Linked DNA regions of Homo sapiens: all the other regions are linked to region 2. Evidence: fine-mapped expression QTL. A gene starts in region 2. Each other region holds a variant in brackets. All regions are shown on one strand. Distances are from middle to middle.

Region 1 (6,225 bases), 63 kb before region 2:
GGCACAATAAAATTTGATTTGAAGTCTATCAATTCATAATTTGTAACAATTCAAGCCGAAGGCCAGGATGAAATGCACAGCTGCCTAACAGGAAAAAAATCATTAATAATCAGGTGAAACAATGTAATCAGAACTACCATTGGGGAACACAAGCAAACCCACACCAGAAAGAGTCCCTAAAACGGCAATCATGACCTTGTGTTAATTACTGGGGAAGAAAACGCACATCGAACAGGAAAGGCTGACTTTCAAGGAAAAAAAAGTGTAAACCAAATGAAAGAAGTTGGGTTGCCCATAAATCAGCTTGAAACCTGGTGATAAGTGGGCAGACATCACTTTGGTGCTAGAATGAGGCATTCCTCATCGAAGTGGAACTTTGATGAGTGACATGAGTTCCCCCACTCCAGCACCCTCTGGAGAAGAGCTGAGCAGAAAGCCACAATGAGGAATCCCAAAGGCTTGCTTGGAGGTGATGGCTGCTTTCTTCTCTACTGGGCTTGAATTAATCCATGGGCACCTATCAATTTCACCAACAGCTGTGACACTGTATGAGCCATGGAGCTGGATAAAAGGGCTTCATTACCACTCCTCTATGAGGAAAGCCTTGCCAAGCTGCTAGAAAATTTTTTGCAAATTTAGCTGTAAAATACGTTGATTGTTCTAACAAAGCCAGAAAGAGAAGGGAACTTTTCTGTTCCCTTTGTTGCTGATCCTGATACTCTGTTCCACAGCCTTGGGCATAATGAGGAGTTGGGACCAGTAGAACAGGGGGACTCTGAAAGCACAGACCAGGAGAGACCTGAATTGAGCATGTTCATAGCATGTTCATAGCAAGACTCCATGTCAGACCCGAACAGGCTCCTCGAGGGTCAGACAGGCAAAGCCTTCGATTTTCCCATGGAGATATAAGCCCCAAAAGAGCACGGAATGGGTCCTCATTTGTCTGTCCAGCTTTCGGAACAGTATGTACCTTAAGCAGGTGTTCAACCGACGTTTGTTGAATAAATGAATTAAGTCAATCAAGGCATAAATAGATGATTGGTCAGAGACCAGGCAGGATGTGATGAAGAACAGAAATATCAGGAGGTGAAACAGGGCACTGGTATGTTCACACCACAGAGACATAGATAGCCAAGACCCCTTTGTTTCGTTTTGTTTTGTTTTGTTTTGACTAAAATAGTTGCAACAGAGGTTATTCTTGGATTTTTAAGGAAGAGTATGGTTTAGACACTTAGGAACGTCTCTGTTTAAAAAAAATTTTTTTAAGTGCACTGTAAAAGCGTCTAACCTCATAATAATTCTCCCTTTTTGAAGACCCAGGATTCAGTGTAGGTTTTGCCCAGAGTTCAGAGATCCAGTTAAAAGATAGGAAGTCCCTATCTAAATAAACCTGGTCTCCTTATACAATCCTATGATAGATTTCTATGATTTTACATTTGATTTGGCATCCATCTTTAATTTCCCTCTAGTACCACCAGACTTTTTCTCTCTGTACTTTATAATGTAAATTTTGCTATTTGATTTACACCTTAGTTGTTTCCTTTAATATGCAAATTTAAGGCTATTTAGCTGACAGCTGCCTAGGATTGTGAAACAGATTATCAAGAATCTGAAAGTCTGAGACAGGATAAAACAAAAAAGGTTTTTATGAATCTATAAGATGTACTTCTATCGGCATGCCTAATATGTCTATGTATTTATGTGTTGTGTACACAATGTTTCACTACTGAAAATATATAAAGAGTTCCAATTAATTAGTTTAAGAAAACTAAAGCACTTGAATCAAATACTTTATCAGGAAAAAGGAAGAGACTAGTCAAATGCTTTTTCAAGTTTATGTAACTTAACTAATATATTTAATAAATAAGCTAGCTTTAAAATTATTGGTAAAGTAGTATTAGAAATGTCTTAAAAATTGCCAGCATATATTTTTGTTTGCATTTATTAATCAAGCAATTTCATACTTATCCCTGCCAAATACTATAAGGTGTCAAAAATTTGGCATAGGGGTTACAAAACTATAAACCCAGCCCAAATCAGAATGATCTTTTCTTGTGTACTCTTTAACAAATAAGACATTAATATTGGTTAAATAAAAATAGCTACATCTCAAATTTAGTAAGATTACTGTAACTTCTAATCTTGTGGCTTTAGGCAGTCTAGCCCACAGGCAGTAAAATTTGTTATCATCTTTGTTTCAAAACTAAACTATAAACTAAGTTCCTCCAAAAGTTAATTTGGCCTATGCCCAGGAATGAGCAAGGACAGCTTGGAGGTAAAAAGCAAGATGGAGTCAGTTACGTCAAATCTTTTTCACGGTCTCAGTTATAATTTTCCAACAGTGGTACCATAACTTTAAATGGTGACTATCACAGTTTCCATAAATAATCTAGCTAAACAAATAAAATACTTAGGTAAATGTTATAGGATAAATACTTGTAGACAAACTCATCATAATTTAGAATCTAAAGTTATATTAAATTAAATAATAGATATTTCATTATTTGGGTATTTGCCAATAGAAAACATTCTCTCCAAAAAC[A/G]AAGTGTGTCCTTTTAAAAAAGAAGATGAACAATTTTTGTCTAATTCAAAGCTTATTTAAAAGTCATGTATAAAACAAGGTAAAAGGAATGAGGAAATAAAAGAGATGTAAAGAAAGTTATAAAAATACAGAGGTTTCTTTGGCAAGAAAGCTTAAAGAGAAATAATTTCATATGAGAAAAAAATCTTGTATGGTAAATTTAGTCCTAGAGTAAAATGACTGGTTATTTAAGAAAGAGGGACGTTCAGGACAAACTAGAAAGTCCAAGCATGTCATGAACAGTCTGTGTAAGTCATAAAAAGAGATTTTTAAAAAAAACGTTTATATGATCAAGTTGTCATATTATTATTAAGTTTGGTTTACTTAGGAAAAAACTGAAATTAATTTTTTTAATTAAGGTTATTTCATCTGTATATCTCTCTGCATGCACTTTTAAAGTACTTGTGACACTGAGTTACAGGATTTTGAGTCCTGGGTCTAAAAATGACACCAAATCCTACTAAATTTTAAACACTGACAGCAATTAAAGCCCCATCTTCAGGTCCTGTAGAAGATGCCAATCAAAATAAACTACATTCCTGAGACACAGGGCCAGAAATTAAAGCCATTTCAACTCAAGGCCCAGAGAGTATTGTGGAAGAGGTGGGTGCATGAGATTGTAAAGGTCGATTTTGAAAGATAAAATAAGTTCAGTTTCTCTATAAATTAATCATTAATGTTGAAGGGCACACTGATGCAAGACTAGCATATGGGCCCCTGTGTCAAATTAACAAAGTTTTCTTGAAGCATTAACTGACTCCTCAGTAAATGTTATAAAGGTTATAAAAGGCTTATGGAAGCTGTATCTTATGGTCAAGATTAAAATTTTATAGATTGTTTACAAAATTTTGAAAAACAAATTTAAATGACTTTGTGCTATTTTTATTAGGGCTTATTGTTTGGAACATTAAGTCTCCTCTCTCAAAGAATGAAGATGTTTGCCTTTTTTGAAATCCTTGAGTTATCACTTTAGTTAAATGAATGACCCTATTTTATGATATCAATAGTATTAAACCTTTGTTATTTGACAAACTTGCCAAAATCAAATTATAAATTATGTCTTTTTCTTACCTAATTAATCCTTTAAGACATTAGATTCCCTAAAGTCCAAAAGTGACATAATTTGGCTTATCTGGTATAAAAATTATACAGGAAACATTGTCAAATACGAAATGGTGTTTGGTTTCCTTTAGGTTGTATTTGTATAAATATGTTATTGGTATGTGTTCCAAAATCAGGGTAAACTCCTGTAATTCTAATATGACTTAATGTACATTTTCAGTGATAATTATAATTTTTATGTTAAATTGTTAGTGTGCCACAAGGTAACAAATTTCCTTGTCAATTGTGTCTTTCACTATGGCTACCCTAATACATTTTGTCATCCATGGACAATTGTCTTGTTTTGGTCCTCCTTAGAAGGTGGTTTTATAATCAGCTATAGAACTCTAACAGGTGTTCTTAAATGCAGGTTTCTGATAACTAACTTATAACAATACAGTTATTTGCATAAGTGCAGTAAGAATCAATTTTCACTGTAACAGGCCACAATCAGAGAAACTGTTTATTTTACCAAGACTTTGACTGTAATGGTGTGCTTTCCTTTAAGGAATCAAACTTGACTTATGAAGCCAATAAAAACCCCTTGGAAAAAACTGGCCTCATACCTTTGTCTACACAGCCCCTGCACAGGGTTCCTGACCTGTGGTAGGTAAACAATGTCACTTTCTGGCAGGTCCAGGAGCCTCAAGTTTATCTTGGAACCTCAAGAGGAGCTGATCACCCAACTCATAGGTATTTGATGGCACAAATCCATGGCTGGGCTCGGCTTTAAAAAAGTCTTATCTGAGATTCCTCCTATGGAACACAGTTCCATCAAAGCCAATTTAAAAGCCTTTGTAAAAATAATTATTCTTGCTGCACTGTATACAAATAATTAGGCCAAGTATAATAAAGCAAACCAGTCCTACCATGATTTGTCTTTAGTAAAAATGGGAAACTGAAGAGAGAATAATTATGCTTCAAAACTATAGTACACCTGTTGTTAGATTCTAGTTTTATCTTACATTTTTCAATTTTTATTATTTTCTACAGTTTGGACTGAATTCTAAGTTTTCTGGGCTACAAGTCTTCAAAATAATGTTTTCAATTTTTTGTTCCTTCCTTTTTTTCCCAATTTTTCCTAATTTGGAGTCACTGAAAACTAAGCTGTGCTTTTGTAAAGCCCTGTGAACTGAAGCCAGACAACTTAAACTTCAAAAGAAAATGACAACAATCTATTTACATACATAAGCCACTTTCATACCTGCCTACTGATGTATGGGCTTCAGAGTAATGTGGCCTATATTGATTTTTCCAGGATTGTTCTTTTGCTTGTTGTTGTTTGTCTTCCTTCCTCTATTTTCTCTTCATAGAATAACCTTATAAAAATGAGTTTTCCTAATAACTTAGATCCTACCTGTCTAGGAATAAGCCATCCTAGTCATGAGAGATCAGACAAAACCTGGGAACAGAGACTCATCTTCTTCTAAAATGCTTTCTCCAAAAAAATTTTTTAAAGTGGGGGTGGGGGTGTTGGGGAATGTGAAAGGAAAATATCTTAGGCCCCCAAAATCACTTAAAGGGAAAATTCAAGCTGGGAACTGTTTAGGGCAAACGTGCCACCCATTCTATTCAAAGGCATCCCTCTGCTCACTGAGATAAATGCATATCTTACTGCCTCCTTTGGAGAGGCTCATCAGAAACTCAAAAGAATGCTACCATTTGTCTCTCACCTACCTGTGACCTGGAAGCCCCTCTCCTTCGAGTTGTCCTGCCTTTCCAGACCAAACCAATGTTCATGTTACATCTGTTGATTGATGTCTCGTGTCTCTCTAAAATGTATAAAACCAAGCTGTGCTTTGACCACCTGGGCACATGTTGTCAGGACCTCCTGAGGCTGTGTCACAGGCACACATCCTCAACCTTGACAAAATAAACTTTCTAAATTTACTGAGGCCTGTCTCAAATTTTGGGGGTTTCAGAAGCCTGTTGCTCCTAGGCTGCTCACCTGTACAGCATGTGACTGTACTGAATACTGTAGGTCACTGTAACACAATGGTAACTATTTGTGTATCTAAACATAGGGCTGGGCATGGTGGCTCATGCCTGTAATCCCAGCCCTTTGGGAGGTCAAGGCAGGCGGATCAATTGAAGTCAGGAGTTCGAGACCAGCCTAGCCAACATGGTGAAACCCCGTCTCTACTAAAAGATACAAAAAAATTAGCTGGGCATGGTGGCACACACCTGTAGTCCCAGCTACTCGGGAGGCTGAGGCAGGAGAATCACTTGAACCCAGGAGGCAAAGGTTGCAGTGAGCCGAGATCGTGCCACTGCACTCTAGCCTGGGTGACAGAGGAAGACTCCGTCTCAAAATAAATAAATAAATAAATAATAAAATAAACATAGAAAAGGCACAGCAAAAATACTGTATTACAATCTTAGCAGACACCGTTGTAAATGTGGTCTACTGCCTGAAAAGTCATTATGGGGCACGTGACTATATTTCAAAACTATCTACGTTGACCTCCAAACCTGTTCTGCTGGCCTGCCTTAGATAAGACTGAGACAAAGGCAACAGGCCCATCTGCAGTTTCAAAAAATCA
Region 2 (6,225 bases):
AATGACGGCTGACTCACCCTCTGGGTGTCACCTCTGTCAGCCTCTTCCATGGGACCCTACGTTTACTTTATACTCACAGCTCCACTTACCTTCCCTAGGCCAAAGCTGCTAACTGCTTTAACCTCTACTCAGCATCTGAATATCAGACAGTGTTTTGTTTGTTTATTGGGTTTGGGTTTTTTGTTGTTTTTGTTTTGGCTGTGCTTCTGAGGAAGTCTTGCTCTTTTTCCTTTCAGTTCTATTCCATTAGGCTTTTTGCTGTGAAATTTTGAATCTGGAAACTCAAGAGAACCGACATCGCAGACTTTGATTTACATGCTGTCAATCTGCTTTGGAAGGTCATGTGGCAAATCTGCCCTTGAGGACCATTTTCAGACAGGAAAAACAGTAATTTCAGCCTGGCTGCTTTTCAGAATTCTTTGCAAACATCAGATGCTCACAATCCAACCGTTTCTCTGTGTACTAACATGTGCTTTTCAAAATGAGTGTCATATTCTTTTTAGTAATACTTTTCTGTGTGTTATGCCCTTTAAATAGTTCTCGTCTTTAACTCCATGTGGCTCTGGTTTGTTTTGTGCCATGCTATTTTGCCCCATTTTCAGGTAACTTTTCTACCTGAATTACTTAGGACCTCTGGATTTATAGCAGATTTGATAAGACATAGATGATAGCATATTTAGATAAGGATCACAGCAAACAGAACCTCACTGAAACCACCCATTCTTCCTGCTTCCACATGGCAGGGTTGCTCAAGGTTTATAAGTAATGATTTTGGCTTTAGCAGCCGGAAGGTATGAGGGCTAAGTGACCTTCACACATGTTTATCTTAAATTATAGATAATTTTAAGAGTCATGAATGGGATTACTACTTATCTATTTTATAAAAGCTAATTATTTGGGATGCCCATCAGAAGAATGGTATCCCTTATCAAACGCTTCCTTAGACGTACTGAATAAAAGCATCAGTTTAGCCGGTACCTGTTAAGAGGCTATGTCTTTCTAAGAGATGTGTTATTTGATTCTAATTATAATTAACTTTGCTTATTACTAAGTAGATAATAATTTTCTCATTTCATATTTTTTCTGAATAACAGTTTTTCTCCCCATAGAGAATATTCAGAAGATGGAATCCTTTTAACGTAGAACTCAAGATGTGCCCTGTTCTCCCTGCCCGCCTCCCATTTCCCTAAACACACACACACACACACACACACACAAACACACACATTCTCCCTTCTCTCAAGATACTTTTTTTCCAACTGAGAGTCGTTGACTAATCACAGATGAGTTAATCCTTCCACAGTTTTGAAAAAGTCTAGCAACCCTCACCTTGAAGAGAGTGAATAGCGTGGCTAATCCATCTAAGAACAATGCACGAAAACGAAAAACGGAGAATCCTGCCCGGCAGTTAATTTGTTACTCATACTTGTTGAACTTAAGATTTGGAGCTAAATAAGTGCAGATGAGAGCAAAGACCCATCTTTTAAATATTTAAGCTTTTAGGCAAACCTGGGCAGGCAATATCACATTTATCAGTGCGAATTCTCCAATGCTCTCTAAAACTTTATTTCAATGATCTCACCTCCTGTAAGGAATTAATTCCCCCTTAGCTTGACCACAGGATCAATATCTTATCTTAAGAAGTGTTTAGGTTTTCTAAAAAAAGACCAGACACTGAAGACTTACATAAACATCAAAGCATTCTTTTTTTAATTCCTCGATATGGAGAAATTCATAGGCCGAAAATTAGGTAAATAGAGAGGTAATTACCAATGCCTGTTTCCTTGACAACTCCCCTCCCCCACCCCTCCTGTGATAGGGAAAAACCAAAATGAAAGTGAGGAGGGGTAGCCACAAGCCATGCTGGATTTTAGCAAACCAAAGCAAGAAGCAGAGCAGAAAGCTGCAAACTAGACACAAAATACAAATAAATCAATGTATATCGGGGCTGCATATTGTGTAGTATTTTTGTGGTTGCCATAGAAACGTCAGCGACGGAAGAACATGTTGCATGACACAAAAGAGAGCAATATGTAATAGGAACATTCCCCCCACCACCACCCCCCGCCCAGCTTCGTCTATAGCAGAGAAAATGCTTTAGCCCCGGGAGGGGGCTGGGTGGGTGGGTAAATGAAGCCAGGAACAGCAGCTTGAAATCACAGCCCAGAAAGGGACGCTCACCCGGCCCAGCACAAAGCGAGGGTCCTTTTGTACCAGCAGAGCCTCTCTTCGCCTCCCTCCAGGCGCCCCCTGCACCTTTCCCCCGCCCGCCTTGCACTCCCCCCCCGCCCCCGGAGCCTACCCCTTCCAGAGGTCCTAAGGAAATCCAGCCCAGGAGAGAAAAATATGCTGGGAAGAGGAATGCAAACATCAGCCACACCCAGCGGGGAAGGTGCCTGCGAACGGCACCAGGACCACATACCTCCTTCCTGGCAGCCTTTGGCACATGGACTTAGAAACCAGAAGCTGAGATGGAGCCGGCTGGGTTCAGAAATTGCCACTAGTTTATAAGAGCTGTAAGTCAGCCAACACTGGAAAGAAAAAGCGAGACTCCACCCATGGGGTGGACCCTTCAGGAAGAAAAAAAAAAAAAAAGTGGTCCTCAGCTGACGTCTCTCCCCACCCATGTCACTTCCTTTTAAAGCTACAAGTTAGCAGTTGCCGAGAGGGAAGAGCGAGCTGGTGTAATATGAGTCACTCCCTTCCCCTTCCAATTAGTGTAAGGCAGTGCTTCAGTTGGCTTCACGTTTGAAATCGCTTTTGAAATCTGGCTCGGGAAGCTGCCAGGATAAAAAAAAAATGAAAGCCCCCTGGAAGTGGCCTTGCTTTCTCTCCCCTTTCTCCCAAATCCTGTTGCATCCCTGCGCCCTAACGGCTCCTCTAACCTCAACCCAGACTCCGGCTCCGTCTGTGTTGCAACCTGGAAATTGTCCTCAGTTGGCTCATTTTTAATTCAGCAAGCGTAGGATCAATATGCCCACCCTCAAAACTCTCCCCTCACCTCTCCTCGGTCCGCTGTGCTGGAAGGAGATTGCGTTGCACTCAGAAGAGTCCAAATCATCTTAAACAAAATAAGCCTCAGCACTCAAGAGATTGAGATGTTATGAAGTGGGATGAAAGAAGCTTGGAGGTCGATTGATGTATTTTCTGTTTTCAAACCTTAGCACCATGGTTGATTACCACTGCACAGGCGTGCACACACGTACTGTCGCATGCTCACATGCACGTGGCATTTACACAGGTGTATCAGAGAGGGTCTGGGCAGACCTTTATAGTAAAAGTGTCTTCACAATTTTTAAAAAGGGTGGGCTGTTGAAAGTCCAGAAATGCCAGGATCTAGAAAATTATTTCAATTTCAAAATACTGAGGTGTATTCCTTTCAAATGTCCACTATTACAGCCATTGTCAAAATAATATTTAACTATTTACTTGACTCCTGGGTTAACCTTGTTCTTTAGATGTTTATAATCTATAAAGGAAAAATACATGTGCTCACAAATAGCCCAAGCACATTGCAGAATTACTAACAGCTATGCAAGTGTCAAAACCAGTGTGTCATGAAGACAGAATAGAAAGTGCTTTTTTGATTGCGATGGGGGAAGGCATTGATCATTCAGGAAACAGGGTTTGGAGTGGGTCCTATGGGAGGTGGCATTTTTCTTGTCTGTGATGAGAGACGGGGAGAGTGAAGCAGAATGTGGTGGAAGAGAAAGGATATGTGAGGCAAACAAAAAAAGGATCAGAACAGAAACCCATTTGTAGCAATAACTTGTTTTAATATCCATGTGAAAATAAATTTGACCACAGAGTAATGCTTATAAAAGATTTTTATAAAAAGTTCCTTGTAGTCATCATCTCTCGTAACTTTTCGAACTATGTTTTACGACCCATGTGCTTCTAGATTTGGTGGAAACTTGAGTTTTTCAAAGTGTTTTTCAAGTAGAGTTACACTGTTTTTCACGGTTGAATTCTGAATGGTAATTTATTTCAAAACCTACAAATTGCATAAATTCCTGATAATGTTATAAGTACAGTCAGTGATTTCAGTGGAAATGATAGGAAATTTAAAATTTGGACAATTGTAACTTTTATCCTGATCTCAGTACTTTAACATCCTCATTCCATTATTACATTACAATTATTATTATACTTATTATTGCTAACACTTTGCCTGTCTAGACAATGTTGCTCAGTCCCAGTTATCTCAGATATAGCTGAGAAATATGGGAGAAAAAGTTACTATTTCTAAAAATTTAACATAGAAATTCAAAATTCATGGATTAAATCCTATGCTTTTTTTTTTGAGACAGAGTCTTGCTCTGTTGCCCAGGCTGGAGTGCAATGATACGATCTCAGCTCACTGCAACCTCCACCTCCTGTGTTCAAGCAATTCTCGTGCTGCAGCCTCCCAAATAGCTGGGATTACAGACATACACTACCACACCCAGCTGATTTTTTGTGTTTTTGGTTGAGACGAAGTTTCACCATGTTGCCCAGGCTGGTCTCTAACTCCTGACCTCAGGTGATCCACCTCCACCTCCCAAAGTGCTGTGATTACAGGCAGGGAGTCACCACGCCCAGCCCTATGCACATTATTGAGTGCCATTTAGAGTCTATCCTTATGTGCCCTTATTTAGCTATTTCTATCTATACAAGGAATTGTGAATATTTCCAGGTCACAACGTAACAACTCAGTTCAATGTATGTTTATTGAGCATCCATGTTAGTTGCTGAAGATACAAAAACACAGATAAGACATGGAAATGGCCCCAAAGTGCTCAAAGTCTTAGAAGGGAAAGCGAAATGTAAACAGTTAAGACACAATGGAGGCAATGATTGACATTTGTACAAGATTCAGAGGTGGTTCGAGAATGGGAAAAGGAGAGGGAGGATACATCTACATAGTTTCTTAGCTAACAGTGGACTCTAAAAGGGGTGGAGGTGGACAGTATACTCATCCGTGAGATGGTAAGAAATAAATACTGGCAGTTGGAGAGAGGAGAAAAAAATTGAAAAGGAGACACAAATCATAAATTGGTAACCTAAAAAAGATATATAAGTGGTCCGTAAACAAAGAGGCAACCTTACATAAAAATACAAGTCACAAAGTAAGGATGTTATTTCTTTGCCTAGTCACTTGTCCAACACTCAAAAAGCTAGAACGTGCAGTGCAGAGAATGCAATGCCATGGGTTCTCTCTTCTGCTGGTGATGGCAAATTGATACAATCTCTGGAATTCAATTAAAGAAGATTTTTCATGAGCCTTTAAAATGTTCATACCCCTTAATCCAATAATTCGACTCAGAATAATTTATACCAAGGACATAAGCAGAGATAAATTCAAAGATTTGGGAACATGTATATTCATCAGAGCCATTTATAATAGTAAAGTCTGGAAACCATCTGAGTGTTTGAAGTAGCAGGTTAGCTATGGAAATGATGTAATCTTCATATGATGAAACACTCTACAAAAAATTAAAATTCTGTGTTTGAAAGACCTAGGGAAATTCATGGTATCTTAAGTGTAAAGGGAACTAAGCTTTATATAAATTATGGTCCCGTTTTCGTGATTCTATAAATATATATTACAGTGTGTGTAGTGGGTTGAATAAGTGTCCCCCAGTGTCCCCCACAAATTCATGTTCACCCAGAACCTCACAATATGAATTTGTTTAGAAACAGAGTCTTTGCAGATGTTAATCAGCTGAGACGAAGTCATTCTGGATTAGGATGGGCTATAGACCCAATACCTGGTGTCCTTATAAAAAGAGGAGAGGATGCAGAAAGACACACACATAGAATAAGGCCATGTGATGGCGGAGGTAGAGATGGGAATGATGTGTCTATGAATCAAAGATTGCTGGCAAACACCAGAAACCAGGAGAGACGCATGGAACAGACTCTCTGAGAGCCTCCAGAAGGACCCAACCCTGCTGATGCCTTAATTTTAGATTCCTGGCCTCGTGAACTGTAAGAGAATAAATTTCTGTTGTTTTAAGTCACACAGTTTGTGCTAATTTGTGATGGCAGCTCTGGGAAACTTAATGCAGTGTGATGAAGATCATGAAACTGTTAATAATCATTACTTCTGGAGAGTGAGATTGAGGATGATTTTTATTTGCTTCTTTATATGTGATTGCACTTTGGAGAACTTTCTACAATGGATGAACACGTGTGACTTTTACAGTAACAAGATTAGGACTAAAAACCAAATAACCTAGGTTT
Region 3 (6,225 bases), 25 kb before region 2:
TAGCAGCAGCAGTGATCAAACATGTGTCAGGGCCTTCTCTCTCTTCTTACTTCAGTCATCAAGCTCAGAGCAAAAGATGCTTGGAGAAGTGATGAGGTTCTTTCCAACTTTTAAGCAGAATCCAGGACAGAGTTGTTTAATTCACGCATACATTCATTCGTCCACTGAGAAGTATATTCATTCATTAGGTTCCCATCCAAGGAGCTACCCGTTCATTCATTCAGCTAAAAATTCATTGATTCATATTTAAGTTCTACTATATACTAACATTGCATTAGACTTCTGAGCATAGGCACAGGGGATTCTTTTTTTTTTTTGAGACAGAGTTTCACTCTTGTTGCCCAGGCTGGAGTGCAATGGAGTGATCTCAGCTCACTGCAACCTCCGCCTCTCAAGTTCAAGCGATTCTCCTGCCTCAGCCTCCCGAGTAGCTGGGATTACAGGCATGCGCCACCACGCCCAGCTAATTTTGTATTTTTAGTCTAGATGGGGTTTCTCCATGTTGGTCAGGCTGGTCTCGAACTCCCAATCTCAGGTGATCCACCGCACCCAGCCTAGCACAGGGGATTCTTACAGAGCCCCTTGCTAGGTTTTAAGTGGTAAGTACCATGCCCAATAAACTAAAGCACTTACTGAGTAATATACCCTGGGCCGGGATGACTTCCACCCCTTCCACTTCTTACAGAACAGATGCTCAATAAATACTGATTCCATCTGAGTCTCTAGATGACCTAACATAATTTAATTTTCATAGTGGTAACACTGAACTGTCAAAGACAAAGCAAAAGTAAGAGCATAAACTGATAAAGTCCTGGGCTTCTTTCCCATTAACATTAAACACAGGGCAGATGACACACCAAGTTATTCTCCCTGCAAAATCCACGCAGATGAACCCACAAGATTGCTCTCCATACCTTTACATGCTGTAAGCAGCCAAGTTGAGTCCTCTTCCTACCAGCACTGAAACTGCATGAGGCTATATGTTAAACTGACATGAAATTACTCAAATAAAAGCAAATTACCTGCGGAATCCCCTGTAGAGGAGGAACTCAGATGTCGGTTGAGGAACACAGAGGTGACTTTTTTTAAAACAAAGAATCTTCTGTTAAAACACAAATCCAGTGAAACTAAAGGAAATTATACTAGCCGTGTAAATCACTTAGGCAAAGCCAGGAATTTCTTGAAAGGTAAAGTCACTCCATTATAACAGTAATTCATTATACAAAATGCATACAATTCTAAAATGCAGACATTTTACCACCTAGAACAGCTATTGACAACATTTTGATTTGTTTTCTTCTATTCTTTGGCGAATGCATAAAGCTTTCCCCTCCCCTTTGCTAGATAAAACCATTTCAGAGGCTTTTTTTATTTTTAAATATATAGTAGTTGAACTCCTTCATGTTAAAAACTCTCAATAAAGTAAGTATTGAAGGAACGTTCCTTAAAATAATAAGAGCCATCTATGACAAACCCACAGCCAACACATCATACTGAATGGGCAAAAGCCGGAAGCATTCCCCCTGAAAACTGGCACAAAACAAGGATGCCCTCTCTCACCACGCCTATTCAACATAGTATTAGAAGTCCTGGCCAGGCCATGGTGGCTTACACCTGTAATCACAGATTTTGGGAGGCTGAGGTAGGTGAATCACTTGAGGTCAGGAGTTCGAGACCAGCCTGAACAACATGGTGAAACCCCATCTCTACTAAAATACAAAAATTAGTCAGGTGTGGTGGCACATGTCTGTAATCCCAGCTACTCAGAAGGCTGAGGCAGGACAATCGCTTGAATCCAGGAGGCGGAGGTTGCAGAGAGCTGAGATTGTTCCATTGCACTCCAGCCTGGGCAACAGAGTAAGACTCTGTCTCAAAAAAAAAAAAAAAAAAAAAAAAAAGTCCTGGCCACAGCAATTAGGCAAGAGAAAGAAATAAAGGGCATCCAAATAGGAAGAGTGGAAGTCAAACTATCCCTGTTTGTAGATGACAGGATCCTACAGCTAGAAAACCCCAGTCTCAGCCCAAAAGCTCCTCAAGCTGATAAACAACTTCAGCAAAGTCTCAGGACACAAAATCAATGAACAAAATTCAGTAGCATTCCTATACACCAACAATAGACAAGCCAAGAACAAAATCAGCAACAAACTCCTATTCACAACTGCCACAAAAAAGAATAAAATACTGGCTGGGCGCGGTGGCTCACGCCTGTAATCCCAGCACTTTGGGAGGCCGAGACGGGCGGATCATGAGGTCAGGAGATCGAGACCATACTGGCTAACACAGTGAAACTCCGTCTCCACTAAAAATACAAAAAATTAGCCGGGCATGGTGGTGGGCCCCTGTAGTCCCAGCTCCTCGTGAGGCTGAGGCAGGAGAATAGAGTGAACCTGGGAGGTGGAGCTTGCAGTGAGCCAAGATCGTGCCACTGCACTCCAGCCTGGGTGACAGCGAGACTCTGTCTCAAAAAAAAAAAAAAAAAAAAAAACTAGGAATACAGCTAACCAGGGAAGTGAAAGATCGCTACAAGGAGAACTACAAAACACTGCTCAAAGAAATCAGAGATGACACAACGAATGAAGAAATATTCCATACTCGTGGATAGGAAGAATCAATATCGTTAAAGTGTGCATACTGCCCAAAGTAATTTACAGATTCAATGCTATTCCTATTAAACTACCAATGACATTCTTCACAGTACTATTAATAGAAAAAACTATTTTAAAATTCATATGGAACCAAAAAAGAGCCTGAATAGCCTAAGCAAAAAGAACAAAGCTGGAGGCATCACACTATCTGATTTCAAACTATACTACAGGGCTACAGTAACCAAATGGGCATGGTACTGAACAAAAACAGACACATAGACCAATGGAACAGAATAGAGAGCCCAGAAATAAGGCCACACACCTACAACTATCTTATCTTCAACAAAGCTGACAAAAACAAGCAATGGGGAAAGGACTCCCTATTCAATAAACAGTGCTGGGATAACTGGCTAGCTATATGCAGAAGATTGAAACTGGACACCTTCCTTATGCCATATACAAAAATTAACCCAAGATGGACTAAAGACTTAAGTGTAAAATCCAAAACTATAAAAACCCTGGAAGATGACCTAAGCAATACCATTCTGGACATAGGAATGGGCAAAGATTTCATGACGAACACACCAAAGCAATTGCAACAAAAGCAAAAATTGACAAATGGGATGTAATTAAACTAAAGAGCTTCTACACAGCAAAGGAAACTATCAACTAAGTGAACAGACAACCTACAGAATGGGATGATATATTTGCAAACTATGCATCTGACAAAGGCCTAAAATCCAGCATCCATAAGGAACTTAAATAAATTTACGAGAAAAAACACACAACCCCATTAAAAAGTGGGCAAAGGACATGAACAGACACTTTTCAGAAGACATACATGAGGCCAGCAAACACATGAAAAAAAGCTCAACATCATGATCATTAGAGAAATGCAAATCAAAAACACAGTGAGATAGCATCTCACACCAGTCAGAATGGCTATTATTTAAAAGTCAAAAAATAACACATGCTGGTGAGGTTGCAGAGAAAAAGGAACACATACACCATTGGTGGGAGTGTAAGTTAGTTCAACC[AT/A]TGTGGAAAACAGTGTCGCAATTCCTCAAAGACCTAAAAACAGAAATATCATTCGACCCAGCAATCCCATTACTGGTTATACACCCAAAGGAATATAAATCGTTCTATCATAAAGACACATGCACGCTTATGTTCATTGCAGTACTACTGCAGCTATTCACAGCTATTCACTATTGCAGCTATTCACAATAGCAAAGACATGAAATCAACCTCAATGCCCATCAATAGTAGACTGGATAAAGGAAATGTGGTACATATATACTGTGGAATATTATGCAACTATAAAAAATGAGATCATGGCCTTTGCAGCAACATGGATGGAGCTGGGGGCCATTATCCTTAGCAAACTAATGCAGAAACAGAAAACCAAACACCACGTGTTTTCACTTACAAGTGGGAACTAAATGATGAGAACACATGGACACATTGAGGGGAACAATACACACTGAGGCCTATCAGATGGCGGAGGGTGGGAGTAGGGAGAGGATCAGGAAAAATAACTAAGAGGTAGTAGCTTTAATACCTGGTGACAAAATAATCTGTACAAGAAGCCCCATGACACAAGTTTACCTATATAACAAACCTGCACATGTATCCCTGAACTTAAAATAAAAGTTAAAAATAAATATACAGTAGTTGAGATTTTATTTTAAATCTATTTTATATGCTCTTTTCTAGCCTTTAATGTGAAATCATATTCAGTTGCCATATTAGAATATAAATATCCTTCTCATAATTATACTAGACATATCATAATTATTACCTAATTGCCTCATTATTATATTTAGGCTTCTTTGTGTTTTTTCAAGAATAAATAGTGCAATGTTTAGCAATTCTGGGCACAAACCTTTTTTTTTCCTGAATTTTGGGTTATTTCTTTGCAATATATTCCCAGAAACAACATTTCTGCATTCCAGAAACAAACATTTTAAGGTACCTAGTGAATATTGACAAATTGCTTGTATTGCCAAATATTGCCAAAATATTTGTAGCTGTTTATATTCTTACTAGCAATATATATAAATACCCATTTCACTACATGTTTGTCAGCAATAAGAATTCTCATTTAAAAACAATGAAAAGCAAAATTAAATCTTTATACAGTCTTACATTAAACTGCATTTCTGAATGGCCATGAAGCTGCATGTTTTAAAGTATTTATTAAATGCTGTTTCCCCTCCATGACTTTTTTATTGATTGTGCCTTTATCCCTTGCATATTGCTTTCTTAAATAGAATAACATCTCGCCTATTCCATTTAGAGTGACCAACTTTTTCAGTTTGTTTATTTTTATTCTTAGCTTATTGGAGGTTTAAATTACGATGAAGTAAGAACTGTAATTTCTTTCATAATGTTTAAACTTAGGGCTTCCTTCTACGCTTATTTCTTATCCTGCAGAAAACTGATAAATGTTCACTCATTTTATCTAGTTTTTCTATAGTTAATTTTGTTTTTAGCTACTCAATCCATCTTACACTTATTTTTGGTTACAGTCCTCTGTGAAGATTTAAATGGATTTCCAAATAGCTAACCAGTTGTATCCAAGGCATTTGTTGAAAGATCCTTCTCTACCTCATTGATTCCCATGCAGTCTCTCCTACATCGAATACCAATAAACAGACATGAATTGAACTGTAGGGGTCAATTCTCTAACTATTCCTTTGATAGATGAGAAAGCTGACAGCTAGAGTGTTAAGTGACCTGCCTGTCACTCAGCTGGTCAGAACAAAGGAGGGCTCCACCAAGCTTGTGTGCCCCCAGCTCTTTCCTTGGCCTTGCTCTCTTGGCCTCTCCACCTGATCTCCTCTTCCTCTCCCAGAGGCTGCACAACGTTACCCTGCATTACAGACCAGCCTGTCCGGCCGCTGGTTAAAGACCCGCAGGGAGGATGGAAGCTGCGCCTGAGAGCTCCTGCAAGTTCATTTGTGCCAACGTATTCCCAGGTGGGAATGAGGGGAGCCAGGTGGATGCCAAGCCCACTTCCCGGGCCTTACGTTTCCCATTCAAACATGGGAGACGTGCTCTTGATACACATAAGGGCATTGATAGTTTACAAATCTACCTATAGGGCAGTTTCTGCAGGAGGAACAAAAGCAGAGAGGGGGAGCAGCCATTTAGATTCTTCTAAAGGGATACATTACCTGTTACAGATTAGGGAATGGAAGGCCTATGATGGTAGGGAATTGTAATTATCTTCTTAACCCATTTATGCTGGAGAGTATAATTTTTTGAATTTTTGCATGAGTGAAAAATCAGACCTTGGTGATGACCTTGAGCAGGAGGATATAAATAATTCCCACATGCTTAGCGTTCCAATAATGGAACACTAAGTTCCATAAGTGGGTTAATGGTTATAACTCAAGTGCCAGAACAGGAATGTGTGCAGCAGTAGAGGGTGTAACGAGGCCTCTAGAGGCCCCGAGACCACCTTCCTTTGACAAAACTACGGCCTCTGACATGGGGTTGTGGGTGGCAGTCAGTGACTCGTTTCTTGCAGTGGTAATAGGAGAGTCCTCTCTCCAACCCAGACATTTGCTTGATTCATGGTTATTTTGGGTAAAAGTAAATAAAAGTTTCACGTTGCGAATTCCCAAACTTTGGG
Region 4 (6,225 bases), 170 kb before region 2:
TGAGGTCAGGAGTTCAAGACCAGCCTGACCAACATGGAGAAACCCCATCTCTACTAAAAATACAAAATTAGCCAGGCAAGATGGCACATACCTGTAATCCCGGCTACTCAGGAGGCTGAGGCAGAAGAATTGCTTGAACCCAGGAGGCAGAGGTTGCGGTGGGCTGAGATCGCGCCATCACACTCTAGCCTGGGCAACAAGAGCAAAACTCCGTTTCCAAAAAAAAAAAAAAAAAAGCAGGCACAGTGGCTCACACCTGTAATCCCAGCACTTTGGGAGGCCAAGGCAGGTGGATCACGAGGTCAAGAGGTCGAAACCATCCTGGCCAATGTGGTGAAACCCTGTCTTTACTGAGAATACAAAATTAACTGGACGTGGTGGTGCGCGCCTGTAGTCCCAGCTACTTGGGAGGCCGAGGCAGAAGAATCTCTTAAACCCAGGAGGCGGAGGTTGCAGTGAACCAAGATCGTGCCCCTGTACTCCAGCCTGGTGACAGAGGGAGACTCCATCTCAAAAAAAAAAAAAAAAGGAATCTTGAGAAATTTTTTTTTAAGCGTTTCTCAGAAATATTTGTCAGTGGAGCCCATGGCCTCACTGCTGTCAAAATCTTGCCCTGTGCTGGGTAGATTTGCAGTGTTGTATATTGAGGTAAAGGAAACAAACTTGGATCCGTATTTTAAATAAATGAGTGTAATAAGAAATTATAACTGGACCATTATAAATCTTTTAGAATTTCTCTTTTCAGATTAACCTTAGAGTCATCCCAGCCTTCAAGGATCTCTTCATCTGAGCCAGAAAACATAGGCTCTTGGGTAGCTAATTAGGATATGGTATGAAAAGTGTTGTCATAGAGAAGTGGACAAACCATGGTTGTCAATTTATGGGTTGTGAACCATTAGTGGGTTGTAAAATTTTAGTAGGAGTGATCAACATTTTTTAAAAAAGAACAGGATGAAATCAGAATCACATGTAGTAAGGGTAATAGCTCACAGAACTGTTAAATGTGTGAAAGGTATTTCTTAGTATGAGTCATGATAAAACAAGTTGGAGAAATAGAGATAAATTGCCTGTGGGAAAATGAGGAATAATGGCAATAGCTAATATTTATTGAGTTTTACTGTGTTCTAGCCTCTGGGCTAAATGCTTTACAGGTATTATTTCATGAAATCCTCACAGTAGGTCTGTGAGATAGGTATTTTTATCTTTATTTTACAGATTAGGTTTTTAATGTGTGAGGAAGTTAATTACCTTGCCCATTGTCAAACACCTAGAAAATGGCGAGGCCAGCATTTTATCCCAGGCATTTTGATTCTAGAGCCCTTTTTCTGTACTCTTCCCAGAGAAGGGAAAATCCTTCTCATCAGAGATGGCTTCCTAGAAGAGGCGTGGCATTTCAGCTGCACTGTGTGAGTAAGATTCACTCAACAGATACTCAGGTATGAAGAAGATACTTTAGGCAGAGGGAAAGGTGTAAAAGTAATGGAAGTGAAAAGTAAAGTAGTTTGGTGTGTTCTGTAAGAGTCTTTCAGTTTGGCTAGTGTGAAAACATAGAAAAGACAAACTGGGTCCAAATTCTGCAGGGGTTTGGATATTTGGTTAGTAGGTAGTGGAGAACCATGAACTAAGTTTTTTGGTTTTTTGTTTTTTTTTTTTTTTGAGACCTGGTCTTACTCTGTCACCCATGCTGGAGTGCAGTGGTGCAATCTTGACTCACTGCAACCTCTACCTCCCGGGCACAAGGGATCCTCCCACCTCAGCCTCCCAAGTAGCTGGGACTACAGGCACACACCACCACACCTGGCTAACTTTTGTATTTTTTTGTAGAGATGGGGTTTTGCCATTTTGCCCAGTCTGGTCTTGAACTCCTAGGCTCAAGTGATCTGCCCACCTCACCTCCCAAAGTGCTGGGATTACAAGAATGAGTCACTGCTCCAGGCCTCGTGAATTAAATTTATGTAGGACAGTAACATGATCACATTTTATGTTTTAATAATATGGCAAACAAGAGTGTGGAATGGAGAGAGGAGAAACTAGAGACATGTATATTACTGCAAGATTTTAGCCAACGTTCTTGGGAAAGGAAATCATTTTTGTGTGACTAGCTTATATTTTATGTGTGTACTGTATAAGGGGTGGCATATGCTGGAATGAGTAGCGTTTGAAGAACTTTAATTCACCTGCTGTTTATCTGAATAGATAATAAGCTTTGCTGTAATGGAGTGCTAATATATATTGCTCTATTTTTATTGGTTTGTCTTTTGGAAACTGACTTGATAACAGTGATTGGGACTAATGAGGTTTTGGTTCTCTCTGCAGATACTGCTTCTAAACTAGGACCCATAGAAGCTATCCAGAAGTCAGTCCGATTGTTTGAAGAAAAGAGGTACCGAGAAATGAGGAGAAAGAATATCATTGGTCAAGTTTGTGATACGCCTAAGTCCTATGATAATGTTATGCACGTTGGCTTGAGGAAGGTGACCTTCAAATGGCAAAGAGGAAACAAAATTGGTAAGGAAATTAAGGAGCATGATGTCAAGATAGTCCCTGTTAGAAGTAGCAATAGTTATACTTCTTTAGGTTGAATCCTATAGAGTTGGCCCTTTTTTCTTGTAGACATAGCAAGTATGCATTGTTATCTTTTTGCAAAGTGGTCTGGATTTTTTTTGGTTGTTTAATTTGTAAAATGTATTCTAAGAGCAATACAAAATGAGATTTTAGAATGAGAAAGAGATTTCTAAATGATTCATTGCATTGGATTCTTTTGCTTAATAACCCTGGAATTTGCCAGTGGAGAGGTACCAAAATTTGACCCATTTGTTCTAGTTTCTCTCTCTCTCTCTACACACGCGCGC[G/A]CACACACACACACACACACACACACACACGCAGAACGTGATTTGAAGAGAGACTGGATACAAATGAGGGCAAGACAGTCTTCTTTTCTAAAACATTGCCTCATTAATTAATTTCCAGGTGGAATTGCTTCATGTAAAATAGTCGTAAATTATGTGAGGGAAGAAGTCTTGTGTTTCAGATCCTTTCCCCACTTAAATATATTTATCTGTCACACATCTAGGTCTGAAGGGGGCGAACACAGTTGTATGAATAATATGGGACTTTGTCAGCCTGAGGAAACCTGATGTTTCCTTGGAGCTATCAAGGAGGGCAAAAACCACTGAAAACAATCAAGTACTTTATAAATTGGATTAATTATTGTTATCAGTCTTGTCCAGGCACATATCCTCTTGCTTTAATGTCCCAGAAGGTATGTTAGGGGAATGTTTGCTCCCACACACTCCTGGACATGTGCCAGTGAGGAAGACAATGGTCAGGCTTAGTCCTGGCTGTTTTCTGCTGCTCCCAGCCCCAGCCAAGATCTCCTTGAGGGGTGTGAGGGCTCAGAGGTGTGCACCAAGGCTGCTTTTATTGGTCATTTTCATGCTTCTCCTGGAATTTACCAAAGTCGGTTCTGCTCTATTTAAAGATACTTGTAGGTAAGACATATTAAAGAGATTGCCTAAAACTTTAGTTATCAGGGAACATTTAGAAAAATTTTGGATCTTGCAATAGTAAACTGCAGTAAACATAATTATAGATATATAAATATACGTCCAAAATAATTGGACAGTATTATTACAAGTTTAAGGAATGTAAGACAGCCCCCTGCAGTGGCTGGAAGTGCAGCTTGTTTGCATTGTTCACAGGAGAAGGCCAGTATGGGAAGGTGTACACCTGCATCAGCGTCGACACCGGGGAGCTGATGGCCATGAAAGAGGTGAGTCACCTGGCTCCGTGGGGCCTTTGGGCCTGGCGGCTCTGGGTGATAGAAATTCCGTATAGACGCTGGTCGTGATTCAGTTCTCTGTGCGTAGAGCTGTCTTCAGCACCAGCACTGCGACAGTCAGGACCAACCAGGCAGATGCACTGAGATAACACACACAGACAGTGAAGGGGCTTACGATTCCAGAGAGGATAATAAGTCACAGACAGTTCTAACAGCACAGGTGTGAGAAGGGCCTATGAGGGTGGCAGAGCTGAGTCTGATGAAGGCTTAGAGGAGAGGATTAACAGTAGTGTCTTATGGGGACACATTGGGGGAGAAGATAACATTTATGATAAGCTTCAGAAACAAGTGGCATTGAAACCGCTGGAGGTAGGATGGGGAAAGGGCCAGGGAACCTGAAGTAGAAACAGGACTCACTGCTGTCTGTGGAGACATCCGGTTTGACGTGGAAGGAGGAGAGGAGTGGAGAGGGGAGGCTCCAGCGTCTTGCACTTGCCGTGGAGCCGCGTCCTCCTCCACATGGCGCTCCTCACTCCCTCTCGGAGCAGGGCCTCTTCCTCCTCTGTGCCCGGGACCTACCCGCACTTCTATGACTTCACTCTAGCTTGGCTAAAAACTTCCTTTTTACTTAATTTTTTGTTGTTTTTAATTGACAAATCATGATTACATATATTTATGGGGTGCAAAATGATGTTTCAGTGTATGTGTATAATGTAGAGTGATTAAATCAAGCCAGTTAACATTTTTGTCACCTCACTTTACAGATTCGATTTCAACCTAATGACCATAAGACTATCAAGGAAACTGCAGACGAATTGAAAATATTCGAAGGCATCAAACACCCCAATCTGGTTCGGTATTTTGGTGTGGAGCTCCATAGAGTAAGCCGACCCTAATGCCACTCTTTGTGTGAGGAATCAGTGAGGGCACAGAATGGAGTCCTGTTCTACATCACAGGTCTTCTCATTTCAGAGCACAGTAACTTTGCCTAATTCTCAGGAAATCTCCATGAGTTACATCATTTCTGCCTTCTCTCTGAAACTAGAGGAGTTCCTCCTAAAATGTAAGTTGTAGACTGTAGTCATTAACCCGACATCATAAAGCACTGAAACCCATCCTGCCATTCAGAAGATTCTTCTAAAACGCCCCTTACACCACTTCTTGTGACTTTTTTTCCGTTTTTTTGCTGAACCACTGTTGAGTACACTGTTAAGTAATACTGGTTTTTTTCTTGTATGTATTTAGGGAGCCATTGTGAAATGAGAGAAAATTCAAACCTCAAATTGAGTTTCCTCCTTGTGTTTAGAAATAAACACGTCGAGGGAAAGAGGATAACTTGGAGCATCGTGGTGTAGAGCATGAGCTTCCAGGGGAAGTTGGAAATGGATCATTTTTAATGTTTTTACAAATTATGTTTAAAAAGGATGTGTTTCAGTACTTAATAATGTATTTGTAGGGACAGCCCTGTTGGTCCCTGTCTGAGATTATATAGCAGACTTAATTTCAGAGGATAATAGAAATTGATCCCCTGTGATTTGGAGATGTTCTTATCCCCAAGAGCTGTATAATTCCAGACAGAGGAGGCAGGCAGACACCTCTATAGAGGACTTAGAAACGACTGTTGTGAGACACATTCAGTGCTCAGGATGGCAAGTGTAGTATACCGTTAGAAAGAACATTCCTTTGGGGTGTGGCCTAGGAAGTTTTCCAGATTTTTCACTAGCGTACATCTAAGGAAAACCGTAAACACAGAGCTGCCCTTTATTCCTCCCACAGGAAGAAATGTACATCTTCATGGAGTACTGCGATGAGGGGACTTTAGAAGAGGTGTCAAGGCTGGGACTTCAGGAACATGTGATTAGGCTGTATTCAAAGCAGATCACCATTGCGATCAACGTCCTCCATGAGCATGGCATAGTCCACCGTGACATTAAAGGTAATCCCACACCCGCCTGGCTGCTGTGGGCCAGAGCCACTGGTACCCAGCCCGTGGGAGGTGCTCTGAAGACGCTCATCCCATTCCCACATATGATTTCTCTAGATGGAAATACCTTTCATTGAAATACGCCTCTATAAGGATCCTGTATTCAGAAACAAGGTAGAACTCATGTCTCTCTACCCAGGAGTCCGCTCTTTCTGTTCAACACTGCTTTTAGAGAAATCTGTTTTCCCAAAATGAAGTTTGCTATTTTTATAAGCTGATTTGGCATAGCCCGTGTACTTACCAGACATTCGTGATCAAAGCAACCTTTTTTTTCTCTCGTGTCAGGATTCTTGTCTATTTATATATGAAAATCATGAATATGTAAACCGACAGTAAATCAGATCAGAAGTGCACATATAAATTTGAGGCTACGTTTTTGAGACAAGAATGGGGTTTGTTTACACAAACCTTGAAATTGAGTTCTGCTGAAGGTTATTTTGGCCATGCTGATGGATTAAAA
Region 5 (6,225 bases), 110 kb before region 2:
AGCCGGGACCTGCTAAGGGAAAAAGATAAGCAAATGGGGACGTGAAGCCTCAGGAACCTGACCTGCGCTTGCACACCACGGTTTGTTGGGCACCTTAGTGACCTGTGCCCCAGCTGACTGCGTGTCACTCTCATCTCCAGGGAGGCAAGGTTCAGCGTGTGACTCCAAGATCAACCAAAGCCTTCAGAGCCCTGGCACATGCCAGGAAGCACTGGCTCCCAGGAGAACCAGAGCCTCTGGGGACAGGCACTGCAATGAGCAGTGGCCTCATGGGATCTTGAGTACATTTAAAAGGTTGAAAGCCTCTTTGTTAAAAAGACAATTCCATTACTTTCCCCAAAAAGACCAATTTTACATTTAAAAATGCCACCTTCGTGAATTTCTGCAAATTTCATTGACTTCAATTTAAACTCATTTCCTCTTGGACTGTGATAGGTGAGGATGAAAAATGCCTGGTCAGGAACCTTCTTCTGTTCCTTTCCTCTTTAAAAAGCAAATTCCACAGACTCCAGAAGGATCCCAACATCATGTGTTATTTAAGAAAAAACAGAGAGATGAATGAGGTTGTTTTTTTTTTCTGAAGGTCATTAAAGACAAAAGATGTTGCTGAACAATGAATATAAGGCAATGCCGTTCTTTACCCCCTTCCAGGGTGGCAGAGATGAGCACCAGCCATCTCACCCACCGTCATGGGCCACAGCTCTCCAGTAGATGGCAAAGCTGTTCCCTGTGACATGGGGAGGGGGTTCCCTGGGAGGGTACAGGCTGGCAGCTCCCATCCGCCCCAGCCAGTGCCTGCCATGTGCCTGCCCCACTCAGTCCTCTCCTGGCACCTGCTCTCTCTAGCTCCTTGCTTTGTGAGAATGTGCATAACAATGGCACTGGCTGTTTCTGTGGTGTTTGGAGAAGAGAGGACTCAGGGCTTAAGGAAGCACTTTAGCAAGAATCCAGAAAACCCAAGGCCCCCACTGAGCAAGGCTCCCAAACTTCCAGTGAGAAGAGAAGAGGCATCGCCCTGGCCCCAGGCTCCCAGACCTGCCTATTTCACCTGTAAGTGGAGCCCCCGAAGACTCTAATCCTAAGCACAGTCTCCACCATCAGTGGCAGGGCGCAGACCCCCTTACACACAGCATTAGTTGTTTGGGTGTTCACAGTAATGAGTGAAGTCCTATAAATAGAATATCACCGATGAAATCAAGGGGAGGTGCGGTCCCTATGCTGCAGGTGGGATGGGCGTGCTGTTGACTTGCTTTCCCGCCATCAGCGCTCCCGCCCTTATGCTCAGAGTTGTAAAGTGATCATGGATTCGGAAGCCTTTGGGAGCAAAACCCTAAACGGTGCTGAGATTAAATTCCCGCTCCGTGAATGTCTCTTCCCGTCTGGGGGCTATGTCCTCTCTCTGGACCTGGGTCCCTCCCTGCATGTGTTGTGGGGCTCACCTTCTCCCTCATCTGTGCCTGTCCCCGTGCCTGCTAGTGCTGGGCATCTGGGTGCTTCTCCAGCATCTCTGTGCATGACCCTGCTCTGCCAGCTCCTGCAACTCCATCCCCAACCCCATGAAGGTGCGGGTGACTTGCACCCCTCGAATGAGGCCTTTGCACATCACGAGCCAGGAAGGTATTAGAAGCCTGGTCCTTACTGCAGCTGGTCTGGGTCGTTTTAGGATGGTCAGGGTCCTGTTTCTGGAGCAGGTCTTGGGCCCCAGGGCCCCTGCTTTTGTGCCCCCAACATCTTCCAGGGGAAAGAGCAGAAGCTTTGAAAGCAGACTTAGGAGCTATTGTCCTCGGGCAAATCACTCAGCCAAACTGAGGCTCTGGGGGTTTATTTATAAAATGTGGATAATAATATCCTAAGGATTAGAAATTACGGAAATAAGGTGAACAGCACACGGAGTGAGCTCGTGGGTGTAATGCCACCAAGGGGCAAGCAGGGATTGGAAGGCACCCCCAAGTTCAATGGGCCTTCTGCTCTACCTCAGAGACTCCTGGTCCACGAATTATGAATGTTTGCACATTCTAAGCATGAACACTACCAGAAAGTACTTACAAAGCCTGGAAAATCACCAGCTGCCTCTAAACTACAGTTTGAATTCCAGGAGACGCTGGCACCTCAGAAAGCCTAGCTGTAAAGGTGGTAAGACAGGTGACCTGACAGTCAAGATGCACCGGCTCCCCATACCCTTCCTCCTGGGCAGGAGAAGAACCCTGCCATTCACCCCTGGTATCCATGACGGGGTTAGGACCATGACATTCTAAGGGGCGATCTCTCATCAGAGAGAATAAATCCACAAAGCTGTAACTCAGATCTCTGCCCAAGTTCTCCACATCAGAGAATGATAGTTACTAGAATGTTTGCTCTTGTTCCTAGAAATATATTTGCACACACACACACGTGTACACACAAGAAGATATCAAGTTAGCACTGGGAGAATAAATAGGAAAACAAAAGGAGAAAACAGTGGGCAGGAGGCTATCTTCATCTGCCTCCAGGAACCAGACCCGTCTAGTTCCCTATGTCCTCCATGGCCTGATAGCCTCTGTCTCCAATCTTCTATATTCTAAACACCACGATTTTGTCTTCAGGGGCTACCAAAAAGCAAGGTGATTTCAGCAGCCCCCGTATCTGTTCTACAGGGCATTGTTCCCAGGTGCAAAACCTGATCTCTAAGTTCTGGTGCAAACTCTTAGGACCTTTCCTAGCCCCAGACCAATGTACACTGTGTACACTGTGATTCCTACGGAATACCTGAGTACCGCAGATGACTCTGATTCAGCTATGTGACACAGGCTCAACCGCTACACGCTGCAGTGTGTTGAAGACGACAAAAGTCAACTGAAGAGACCCAGTTCCAAAGGCATGCAAGCTACGTGCAAGAGGTCAAACTAGTTGGGAAAAAAAAAAAACAGAATTTCAGAATAATTCTGAATTTTGCAGTTCACTCTCTCACTTATGGACTCAAAGTTCTTAAGCCTTCAA[C/T]GATCAAAATGCAGAGGTGATGTCTGCCTGTTAGCCAAGGAGGCAGTAGAGCATGGAATTAAGAAATATGGATGGGAGTGAAATCCAAATCTAATTACAGCTGTGTGACTCTGAGCCGAATATTAAGCTCTATATAACTTAGTTTTTAAAAAATGGAGTGTGGCACATCATCTATTCATGTTGCTGTAAGGATTAAATAAATGAATCATATGTAAAATGGCCGGCAGGTAGCAATTGTTGAGTACCTCTTATGATTGCCCATAAGAAGCTGTTAAGACTGACTCCCAGCAAGAATAAAAAGCAGTTTATTAGGACCATTTCATCAAGTAGAAACTCTGTTGATTCTTCTGCAAGTTCTGAATGACCAGGAGCAAAAAGACAAGTGGTGGGGCTGAACCAGAGAAATGTGTGAGGCAGGGGGGAATGCACTTCTGACTTACCCCTAACAGCCCAAAGCGTTCGGACAGGCTCCAGCCACACAGAAAGTCAATTTCAAACTTGTGGTTGAGAACCACGATGGCATTTTCCTTCCCATACTTGAGGTAGGCGCGCGGGTCCGTGAAGATGGTGCATTCCGTGCCCGACCACCACTCCAGCAGCATCACCAGCTCTGGAACAAACCACAACAGACAGATGTTTACTACATGCAGCCTTGTCCTGGGAGCCCTGCTGAGAGCAGGGCTCTGCCCTCCCAGCTAGGGGAGAAAGCAACTTCTACGGGCAAAGTTCTGGATCGTTGCAGCACAGACCTTGGTCCTTGAAAGGGTTCAGAAGCGGAAGGAAACACGAGAAAGACTTCACAACATTCTCCAGGGAAGAAGAGAAGGATACTTGGAGAAGGTAAATGACTTACTCCTTGATTAAGTATCTTGGGGGAAAATAAATCAGAAAGCCAGAATCCGTCAAGAATTCATGCCCTTGTGTTTACAGAGCTCTGAAAGGCAGCGTGAGATGAGGTATAGAATTCTTAATATCCTGGAAAATGACTAATTGGGATACTTATAAACTCCATCAAAGAATATTAAATACCCAACTTTCCTCTCCCATTTCTGACACTTGAGGGCAGGGGAAGAATGGAGAACGGCAGATCCAGCCGCAGGAGCCCCAGCACCTGCAGGGCAGCGGGAGTGAGAGTCAGCCCACAGCAGGTCTGAAGAGAACTATTGAAATAGTCTTTGTAGGGGCTTGTGAAAAGAAAAAGATTCTTTCTTCAGGCAATCATGACCACTTGCAGTTTATTCTTCAGTGATGCCTCCCATCCAGGGAACCTATTCCCAATCTGGCAGGCTCAGGAAAAGCCTCTAGGGTAGAAACTGTCCAGAAAAACAGTTGAATGTGGGTGATGGACTTTGAAATGGACTCTTGAAGTTGACGGTGTTCAGTAGGGGTGGGCGCCTGAGTGCTCTGCGAGGGTTGTGCCTCCTCCCCCTTTCTTTTGAGATGGAGTCTTGCTCTGTCACCCAGGCTAAGTGTAGTGGTGTGATCACGGCTCACTGCAGCCTCAACCTCCCAGGCTCAAGTGATCCTCCTACCTCAGCCTCCTGAGTAGCTGGGACTACAGGTGTGCACCACCATGCCCAGCTAATTTTTTTGTATTTTTTGTAAAGACGCAGTTTTGCCATGCTGCCTACTGGGTAGACTCCTGGGTTCAAGCAATCCTCCTACCTCAGCCTCCTAAAGTGCTGGGATTACAGGCGTGAGCCACTGCACTGGGCCATGTGCCCCCCATTTTTAATCACTCGTTAGTGAAGCATGCATGCAGCAGAGGACTCACTCCCTCCCCACCCCATCCCTACCCTACAGGCAGGTGGATTTGGCCTTGACTCCAGTAAGCCTAGTGTTGTAGCTCAAGCGGCTGTCCTTGGAAACTTTTCTCCTCCAGGCTGGAAGCTGGAGGCTTGATGTGGAGCACCAGAGCCCTCTAGAAGGCATCACAGTCCAGTTTTTACGCAGTGAGCACTGCGGGACTTTGGACAAATTAACCTCCTAACACGACAGTGCCTTCATCTTTGGAATGGGGTTGCCCCAAAGGGTTCTGTGAACATAAAGCACCTAACACATAGTATGTGCTCAGCGTAGAGCACATTGTAAGTTCCCAGCAAACTGAAGCTATCAGTCTCCTTAAAAACGACGAAAACCACTCCCCTTCCTTCTCCAGAAATGAACAATAAAAAGTGTCTACCTATTTCTAGGAACTGAGAAAATATCAAGCTCCCATTCAGTTGTCCCACCAGGCCATAGCATTGCTGGAACCAGAAGCACAAGTCAAGGAATAGTGACGCATCCTGGGAGTTGGTTGTGGGGGCAGGAAGGCGGTGGTGGGGTGGGGGGCTAGGGTAACAACATGCAGCCTGGCAGGGCAGCCTGACAAAGGGACAGAGGGACAATTTGTTACCATGGGGCACGAAGATGCCTGTAGTGCTGGGCTGAGTTTTTCCAAGCCCGAGGATGGGAAGGATCAATCTACTCCATTACTGGCCAAAGGCCACAGATAAGCACCAAAGCACAACTCCACAGGGAGTCAGGGAGACAAAGCTGATGCTTCCAAGAGACTCACATTTCGTTTGTGTCACAGGCCAAATGCCTCTCTGTGGGACTCCTTCCTGCCTAAGGCCACTCTCACCGCCCCCTACCCCACTCACATGTTCCCCAGTACCCTCCACAGCCCTATCACAGCTGTGACCACAGCGTGAGGTTCTCTCCCCTACTATAGAGCACGGGCGCCACGAGACAGCAACTGTACTGTTTGGTTCACCCCGACCTTAGCCTCGACTCCAAGACTCAGCAAGAGCCTGGCACATGGATGCTTTCAACAAATGCCGCGTGATTACCTAATGCGTTCAAGCACTCTGCGAGATACAGGAGATGATTAAACATTAGATCAGATCCTGGCACCCCTCCAGCTTACTGTCCAGGGAAAAGACAGCTACACAACCACAAAACAACATGACAGGGAAAGGAGAAAGGCCTGCTAATAGGATGGCTGCTGAATATTGTCTTCATGGATTTGGGAGTCAGACACATCCAGGCTCCGATCCCGGTGGAGCCACTTACTAGTTGTGAGACTTCTGGCATGTTTCTCAATGTCCCCCTTCTCTGTAAAGTAGGGACAGGTAAATGCCGTTAGAGATGCTGTGGATATTAAATAAGAGCATGGACTCAAGGCACCTAGCATGACATGGGGCATAGCAGGCAATCAATAAATGGACAGCTTTTTAATTACTATTATATGCCTGATAATTTTATCAC

Alleles and levels. Positions count from the first base shown, and alleles are read on the strand shown. Sizes are in standard deviations (SD) of each study's normalised expression. Not every link is listed here.
For the expression in monocytes after R848 of the gene that starts at base 2,546 in region 2, G is the low allele of the variant in region 4 and A is the other (moderate effect, 0.47 SD a copy in Quach 2016).

Evidence for each region. PIP is the estimated chance that this variant, and not a neighbour inherited with it, causes the effect.
Region 1: its variant is fine-mapped to the expression of AGPAT4 in whole blood (TOPMed, PIP above 0.99).
Region 3: its variant is fine-mapped to the expression of AGPAT4 in nasal epithelium (TOPMed, PIP above 0.99).
Region 4: its variant is fine-mapped to the expression of AGPAT4 in monocytes after R848 (Quach 2016, PIP 0.95).
Region 5: its variant is fine-mapped to the expression of AGPAT4 in whole blood (INTERVAL, PIP above 0.99).

Annotation. Positions count from the first base shown.
Region 1 is chr6:161,208,778-161,215,002 of GRCh38, forward strand. All of the region lies in intron 2 of AGPAT4 (1-acylglycerol-3-phosphate O-acyltransferase 4), which reads right to left. Among named protein-coding and RNA genes, the nearest start is that of AGPAT4-IT1, 50 kb to the left of the region's middle. The variant A/G (reference allele first, on the strand shown) is at 2,543.
Region 2 is chr6:161,271,516-161,277,740 of GRCh38, forward strand. It overlaps AGPAT4 (1-acylglycerol-3-phosphate O-acyltransferase 4), which reads right to left and starts at 2,546. Exons shown (of 9, transcript NM_020133.3): 1 at 2,423-2,546.
Region 3 is chr6:161,246,110-161,252,334 of GRCh38, forward strand. All of the region lies in intron 1 of AGPAT4 (1-acylglycerol-3-phosphate O-acyltransferase 4), which reads right to left. Among named protein-coding and RNA genes, the nearest start is that of AGPAT4, 25 kb to the right of the region's middle. The variant AT/A (reference allele first, on the strand shown) is at 3,623.
Region 4 is chr6:161,104,198-161,110,422 of GRCh38, forward strand. MAP3K4 (mitogen-activated protein kinase kinase kinase 4) reads left to right here. Exons shown (of 27, transcript NM_005922.4): 20 at 2,317-2,508; 21 at 3,702-3,772; 22 at 4,546-4,662; 23 at 5,558-5,717. Among named protein-coding and RNA genes, the nearest start is that of AGPAT4-IT1, 55 kb to the right of the region's middle. The variant G/A (reference allele first, on the strand shown) is at 2,853.
Region 5 is chr6:161,162,832-161,169,056 of GRCh38, forward strand. AGPAT4 (1-acylglycerol-3-phosphate O-acyltransferase 4) reads right to left here. Exons shown (of 9, transcript NM_020133.3): 3 at 3,417-3,586. Among named protein-coding and RNA genes, the nearest start is that of AGPAT4-IT1, 4.0 kb to the left of the region's middle. RefSeq lists enhancers at 3,022-3,731, 5,214-5,809. The variant C/T (reference allele first, on the strand shown) is at 2,977.